Homo sapiens: one gene and its partner. The protein of the gene in region 2 purifies or fractionates together with the protein of the main gene of each other region. This does not show direct contact. Each region holds a gene or a part of one and is shown on either strand. Other genes may lie near its edges.

Region 1 (3,500 bases), on a different chromosome or scaffold from region 2:
TTAGCTGTGTGTGGCAGTGTACACCTGTAGTCCCAGCTACCAGGTAGGCTAAGACAGGAGGATCATTTGAGCCCAGGAACTGGAGGTTACAGTGAGCTATGATCATGCCATTGCACTACAGCCTGGGCAACAGAGTGACACCCTGTCTCTTTAAGTAAATAAATAAATAACAATAGGGTAAGATTGAGGGTTCTGCTACTGTACCAGAATAACAGCAATCAACTCAATTCAGCTGGGCCATAGAAATACCACAGCATCTTCCTTGTAGGTGTGGAAACATGAAGTTTTAGGTAAGTACCAAGGCCTAAAGGGAATTATGGGAGGCATCTGAATTCTTTCTCAGTATTTTAACAAAATAATCTCCATATTTTGGCCTGAAATATACATAGAATCTGATGTGGGGTGCATTTAATTTAATTATGTTTATGGCTAGAGAGAGTCCTGGAGATGACTATCTTTGAAAATTTAAATTTACTGACTAAATAATTTAATAGCAATAGGGAAAGATGGGGCTTGATTGATGAAAATAGTGAAAATAGCCGCATGTGATGGCTCATGCCTGTAATCCCAGCACTTTGAGAGGCTGAGGCCAGAGGACTGCTTGAGCCTGGGAGTTTGAGACCAGCCTGGGCAACATGGCAAAACCCTATCCCTAAAATAAAAACACACAAAAAATGGCTGGGCATGGTGGCGCGTGCCTGTAGTCCCAGCTTCTTAGGAGGCTGAGGTGGGAGAATTGCTTGGGGCCAGGAGGCAGAGGCTGCAGTAAGCCGTGATTATGCCACTGTACTCCAGCCTGGGTGACAGAGCGAGATCCTGTCTCAAAAGAAAATAGTGAAAATATTTCCATATTGAGAGATTTAATGAAGTATAATATGGAAAAGAGGTTTTCTTTGTAAAAATACTAATATATTCAAGAATTTTACAATTGACCATTTCATTCAAAACTTATTTCTGTTAATGGAAGCCTGATCTCCTATTACCATATTCACTACAGCCTCTGTCAAATTAGACTGCCTTAATAACTATCCATGGGGAGGCCAGGCATGGTGGCTCACGCCTGTAATCCCAGCACTTTGGGAGGCCGAGGCAGGCAGATCACGAGGTTGGGAGTTCAAGACCAGCCTGGCCAACATAGTGAAACCCCATCTCTACTAAAAAAATACAAAAATTAGCCAGGCGTGGTGGCGGGTGCCTGTAATCGCAGCTACTCAGGAGGCTGAGGCAGGACAATCGCTTGAACCCAGAAGGTGGAGGTTGCAGTGAGCAGAGATCGCGCCACTGCGCTCCAGCCTGGGCAAAATGTGAAACTCAGTCTCAAAAAAAAAAAAAAAAAAGAAAAGAAAAGAAAGACCTATCCAGGGGGAATAAACCAATAAACCTCAGGGGAATAGGTCATATTTACCGCTGCCAGCAGTTTCTGAGGCTTCAGATGCAGTAGAAATGTTGTCTGAAAATTTCTCTTCTGTAGTATTCACGTAACTGAGGCTGCTTCCAATTCTATCTTCGACCTGCTCCATAGGATGGGCTGCAGTTCCAAATGAGTATTTTCCTCCATTCAAAACAGATGATGGCTCAATTACCACAGGGTTGGCATCCTAAAATCAGGAAATCAGAGAATAAGAAGCAAAGTTTATAATCTGACAACTATGTAGTCTTCAGAAACAAATCTCACAATTATCTATTTTTTTAAGTCTCCTGTGGTTGGCCACAGACATTTAAAAACATTCTAATACATAGCTATATTTTAATCTCTTTCAGGAGGAAAAGTATGTATATAGATAAAATTGGCAAGGTAGACAAAACAGACTGTGAAGGATTTTGTGCCACATAAAGTAATTTACACTCTATTCTGTTGGCAGCCATTTTTTTAACATTAAAAGTAAATAAAGCTTAAATTTTTTTCTTTTCTTCCTTATTTCCCATAGTACATGAATGTATATAATTTTTTTATTATTAAAGATTACATGGTCAATGTAGAAAATATAGAAAACATGAAGAAAATATCACATGTACTCAGATTCCATCATTTAGCAATAACTGTGTTTTAGTTCTTATGACTGAAAAATATGTATATATGTAAAAGATGAGTGGTGTATGTACATAGAGTGAAGGGCAATGCTATGACTTATACCTATGTGACCTTCTACAATAACTGAACACACCTTTAATCCCAGCACTTTGGGAGACCGAGGCAGATGGATCACTTGAGGTCAGGAGGCCAAAATGGTGAAATCCCATCTCTACTAAAAATACAAAAATTAGCTGGGGGTGGTGGAGGGCTCCTGTAATCCCAGCTACTCGGGAGGCTGAGGCAAGAGAATCACTTGAACCCGGGAGGTTGCAGTAAGCTGAGATTGCGCCACTGTACTCCAGCCTAGGCAACAGAGTGAGACTCTGTCTCAAAAAAAAAAAAAAAAAAAAAAATCATATTTTTTTCTTTCACCAAACATTGTATTGTTTATATAGTGCTAATATGCTAATCTAACATTTCATATTTTCTCTATTTCTCTTTTTAACAAAGAGAGAACAATCCTAAATAGCAGAGTCTTCAAAAGGCAACACTATTAGCTGGAATTTAATAATATTATTGCCTTCTATTTCTGGCAAGCGACACTAGTTTTCTTTTCTTTTTTTCTTTTTTTTTTTTTTTTGAGACGGAGTCTTACTCTGTCACCCAGGCTAGAGTGCAGTGGCGTGATCTCGGGTCACTGCAACCTCCACCTCCCAGGTTCAGGAGATTCTCCTGCCTCAGCCTCCCGAGTAACTGGAATTACAGGTGCATGCCACCAAGCCCAGATAATTTTTGTAGTTTTCATAGAGATAGGGTTTCACCATACTGGCCAGGCTGGTCTTGAATTCCTGACCTCAGGTTATCTGCCCGCCTGGGCCTCCCAAAGTGCTGGAATTACAGGCGTGAGCCACCATGCCCATTCAGTTTTTCTTTTCTTTTTTTTTTTTTTGAGACAGGGTCTCGCTATGTTGGCTAGGTCAGTCTTGAACTCCCGGCCTCAAGCAATACTCCTGCCTGGGCCTCCCAAAGGGCTAGGATTAAAGGCGTGAGCCACTGTGCCCAGTGGACATAAGTTTTCTACTTAAAGTAGTGATATAAAGTTTCCTTTGAAAATATGATTAAATAACTAATTAATCACAAACAGTTATAAATTTCTTTGTTCCTTGTCTGTTACCACTGCTTCACTTTAGTAGCCAAAAAATTTTTTTAAATTTTAAGTAAAAATGGCATAATTATTTATGTAAGTTAACTGTATGGCATTACATGAGAAAAATGGTGACCATAGTTTAAAAAAATGATTAAGAAGTAGGAATCTATATTACATATGAATTTTGGACCATCAATTTTTAAAATTTAGATGGTTCACCAAAGTAGTCAAAATTCTTTTTTTTTTTTTGAGACAGAGTCAAGCTCTGTCGCCCAGGCTGGAGGTCAGTGGTGCAGTCTCGGCTCACAGCAACCTCCGCCTCTAGCTTCAAATGATTCT
Region 2 (3,500 bases):
AAATTCTGTCTCTACAAAAAATACAAAAATTAGCTGGGCATGGTGGCATGGCATTGTGGCCCCAGCTGCTCAAGAGGCTGAGGTGGGAGGATTGCTTGAACCCAGGAGGTTGAGGCTGCAGTGAGCTGTGTTTGTGCCACTGCACTCCAGCCTGGGTGACAGAGCAAGACCCTGTCTCAAAAATATATATATATATATTTTCAAATATATTTCATTTGACCCAAATTCTACTTTAGAGTAGAATACTATATCCTAGAGCAGATGTCCACCAACTTTTTCTGCCAAGGGCCAAATAGTATTTTAGGCTTTTCACACCAGTACTTTAGGTTTTGAAATACAGAAATTTGAATTTTGTATACCTTTCCTGTGTCACACAATTTTCTTTTGATTATTTTTCAGCCATTAAAAGAAATATAAAAACTGGCCAGGCATGGTGGCTCACCTCTATAATCCCAGCACTTTGGGAGACCGAAGGGGGTGGATCACCTGAGGTCAGGAGTTTGAAACCAGCTTGGCCAACATGGTGAAACCTCACCTCTACTAAAAATAGAACAATCACCCAGGTGTGGTGGCACGCGCCTGTAATCCCAGCTACTCAGGAGGCAGAGGTAGGAGAATCGCCTGAATCTGGAAGGCAGAGGTTGCAGTGAGTCGAGATCATACCACTGCACTCCAGCCTGGGCGACAGAGTGAGACTCTGTCTCAAAACAAATAAAAATTTTAAAAAACGTAAAAACCATTCTTAGCTTGCAAGTCATACAAAGACAGATGGCAGGCCAGATTTGTCCATCAGGCCGTAGTTTGCTGAGCCCTGTCCTAGATGGACGAATAAGTGACAGAGTGACAGTGCAAAGAACCTCTCAGAGGGGTAAGGCTTAGAGAGTAGTCACGAGATGGCATGAATCCGTAGCTGCCTCTGGATCCGTCTGTAGGAAAGAGGAGACTGAGGACCAGTTTGGAAACTGGCATGGAGGTGAATTGAGGAAGAAAAAGGAAAAGAGAGCAGGAGTGAGTGGACTGAGAAATGCCAGGACATTCCTCTGCTTCTTTCCTTGTGTTTTCTGCAGTTCTAATGTGAGATGGTTAGCCTAGCAGCAGAGTGATACATGGCAATTCACCTGGTCATTCCCTGCACTTGATTGCTTGAACAGGTCTTTCCAGTTTGAGCTGTGATAAATGGGGTGTGTGATCAGGAGAAAAATTCTAAGCTTCATGGAGCAGGAGCAGGATCTGGGGCTGGTTTCTCCTCAGCAGGCATCGGGACTGTATGGTTTTTCTGCCCTCTGTGTCTACAGTGTGGTCATCATGATTTCAAATATTGGTCCCATCATCCTCATGACCTATGACATTGGCTCCAAAATTCTAATCTTTGAGAGTCCAAATGAAATCTCCCAGATAGCCTCCCTCCTCTGCGCACAGTGCTGGAACGATATATCTCTGGTTTTTTGTTGTCGTTGTTGCTGTTCTGCTGCTGCTGTGGCCTCAGTGCTCAGAGCGGAGACCAGACCCTGCCTGGCCCCTCCTCCTCCTCCCTGTCAGAGACACACCACAGGGATTCTGCTCCCTCTCTCCTGCTCTATTGCCTCATTTCCCACAGCTTCCACATACCTTTCTTGCCTGCCTCATGCCCCCACTGAAATCTCTCCTGATGATTACTTGCTCCCCATTTGTCATCTCAGTCTTAGGTGGCATGTCTTGCAGAAGCCCACACCTTCCCCCGCATTCTCCCTGCCAACCTTTCCTGCTCAGGTCACCCTCCGGCCCACTTTTTTCCCTGGCCTTGGCCCCTTAGGAAGACGGAGAACCCTTTCCATCTTTGTAAGCCTCTTGCTGCCCTGCTGAGCCCCTCCGGCTTCTCTGCTGTGCACCTCCCACCTTTTCCTTAATTTGCCTGGTCCTCCTCCACACATTTCTCTTCTCTTCTGTCCTATCATGCTAGAAATAAACCACAGCATCTGGTAGAGAGGCGGCGTTATCAGATTCTCATTTAGCAATTTGTGTTTTTCCATTTTGCACACATTTCAATGAAATGTCAAGTATCAACAGTTTGGAGATTTTTTTGTTTAAGAGACAGGATCTCCCTATGTTGTCCAGGCTGGTCTCCAACTCCTGGCCTCAAACCATCCTCCTGCCTTAGCCTCCCAAAGTGCTGGGATTATAGGCGTGAGCCACCATGGCCAACCAGTTTAGGGATCTTTTGAACAAGCTGATATGTTTGTATTTTTTTAACCTACCGTAGCATGGAGTTACATAAGCCTTCCTTTTATTTTCCATACATTTTCAGATTTTCCATCTTTGACCAGAAATTTGCCAAGCCAAGAGTTACCCCAGGAAGATTCTCTCTTACATGGCCAATTTTCACAAGCAGTCACTCCCCTAGCCCATCATCACACAGATTATTCAAAGCCCACCGATATCTCATGGAGAGACACACTTTCTCAGAAGTTTGGATCCTCAGATCACTTGGAGAAACTATTTAAGATGGATGAAGCAAGTGCCCAGCTCCTTGCTTATAAGGAAAAAGGCCATTCTCAGAGTTCACAATTTTCCTCTGATCAAGAAATAGCTCATCTGCTGCCTGAAAATGTGAGTGCGCTCCCAGCTACGGTGGCAGTTGCTTCTCCACATACCACCTCGGCTACTCCAAAGCCCGCCACCCTTCTACCCACCAATGCTTCAGTGACACCTTCTGGGACTTCCCAGCCACAGCTGGCCACCACAGCTCCACCTGTAACCACTGTCACTTCTCAGCCTCCCACGACCCTCATTTCTACAGTTTTTACACGGGCTGCGGCTACACTCCAAGCAATGGCTACAACAGCAGTTCTGACTACCACCTTTCAGGCACCTACGGACTCGAAAGGCAGCTTAGAAACCATACCGTTTACAGAAATCTCCAACCTAACTTTGAACACAGGGAATGTGTATAACCCTACTGCACTTTCTATGTCAAATGTGGAGTCTTCCACTATGAATAAAACTGCTTCCTGGGAAGGTAGGGAGGCCAGTCCAGGCAGTTCCTCCCAGGGCAGTGTTCCAGAAAATCAGTACGGCCTTCCATTTGAAAAATGGCTTCTTATCGGGTCCCTGCTCTTTGGTGTCCTGTTCCTGGTGATAGGCCTCGTCCTCCTGGGTAGAATCCTCTCGGAATCACTCCGCAGGAAACGTTACTCAAGACTGGATTATTTGATCAATGGGATCTATGTGGACATCTAAGGATGGAACTCGGTGTCTCTTAATTCATTTAGTAACCAGAAGCCCAAATGCAATGAGTTTCTGCTGACTTGCTAGTCTTAGCAGGAGGTTGTATTTTGAAGACAGGAAAATGCCCCCTTCTGCTTTCCTTTTTTTTTTTTGGAGACAGAGTCTTGCTTTGTTGCCCAGGCTGGAGTGCAGTAGCACGATCTCGGCTCTCACCGCAACCTCCGTCTCCTGGGTTCAAGCGATTCTCCTGCCTCAGCCTCCTAAGTATCTGGGATTACAGGCATGTGCCACCACAC

The links. Proteins that work in one complex are often made in the same cells at the same time.
Region 1: the proteins of MANSC1 (region 2) and USP32 purify together in Homo sapiens (affinity purification with mass spectrometry; 2 studies listed by BioGRID and IntAct, with this or other methods). This does not show direct contact.

What each region holds. Positions count from the first base shown.
Region 1 is NC_000017.11:60,224,634-60,228,133, forward strand, and holds part of USP32 (ubiquitin carboxyl-terminal hydrolase 32), read right to left. Parts: intron 1,599-3,500; coding exon 1,406-1,598; intron 1-1,405. UniProt on the Homo sapiens protein: Deubiquitinase that can remove conjugated ubiquitin from target proteins, such as RAB7A and LAMTOR1.
Region 2 is NC_000012.12:12,329,743-12,333,242, reverse strand, and holds part of MANSC1 (MANSC domain-containing protein 1 isoform 1 precursor), read left to right. Parts: intron 1-2,284; coding exon 2,285-3,216; 3' UTR 3,217-3,500.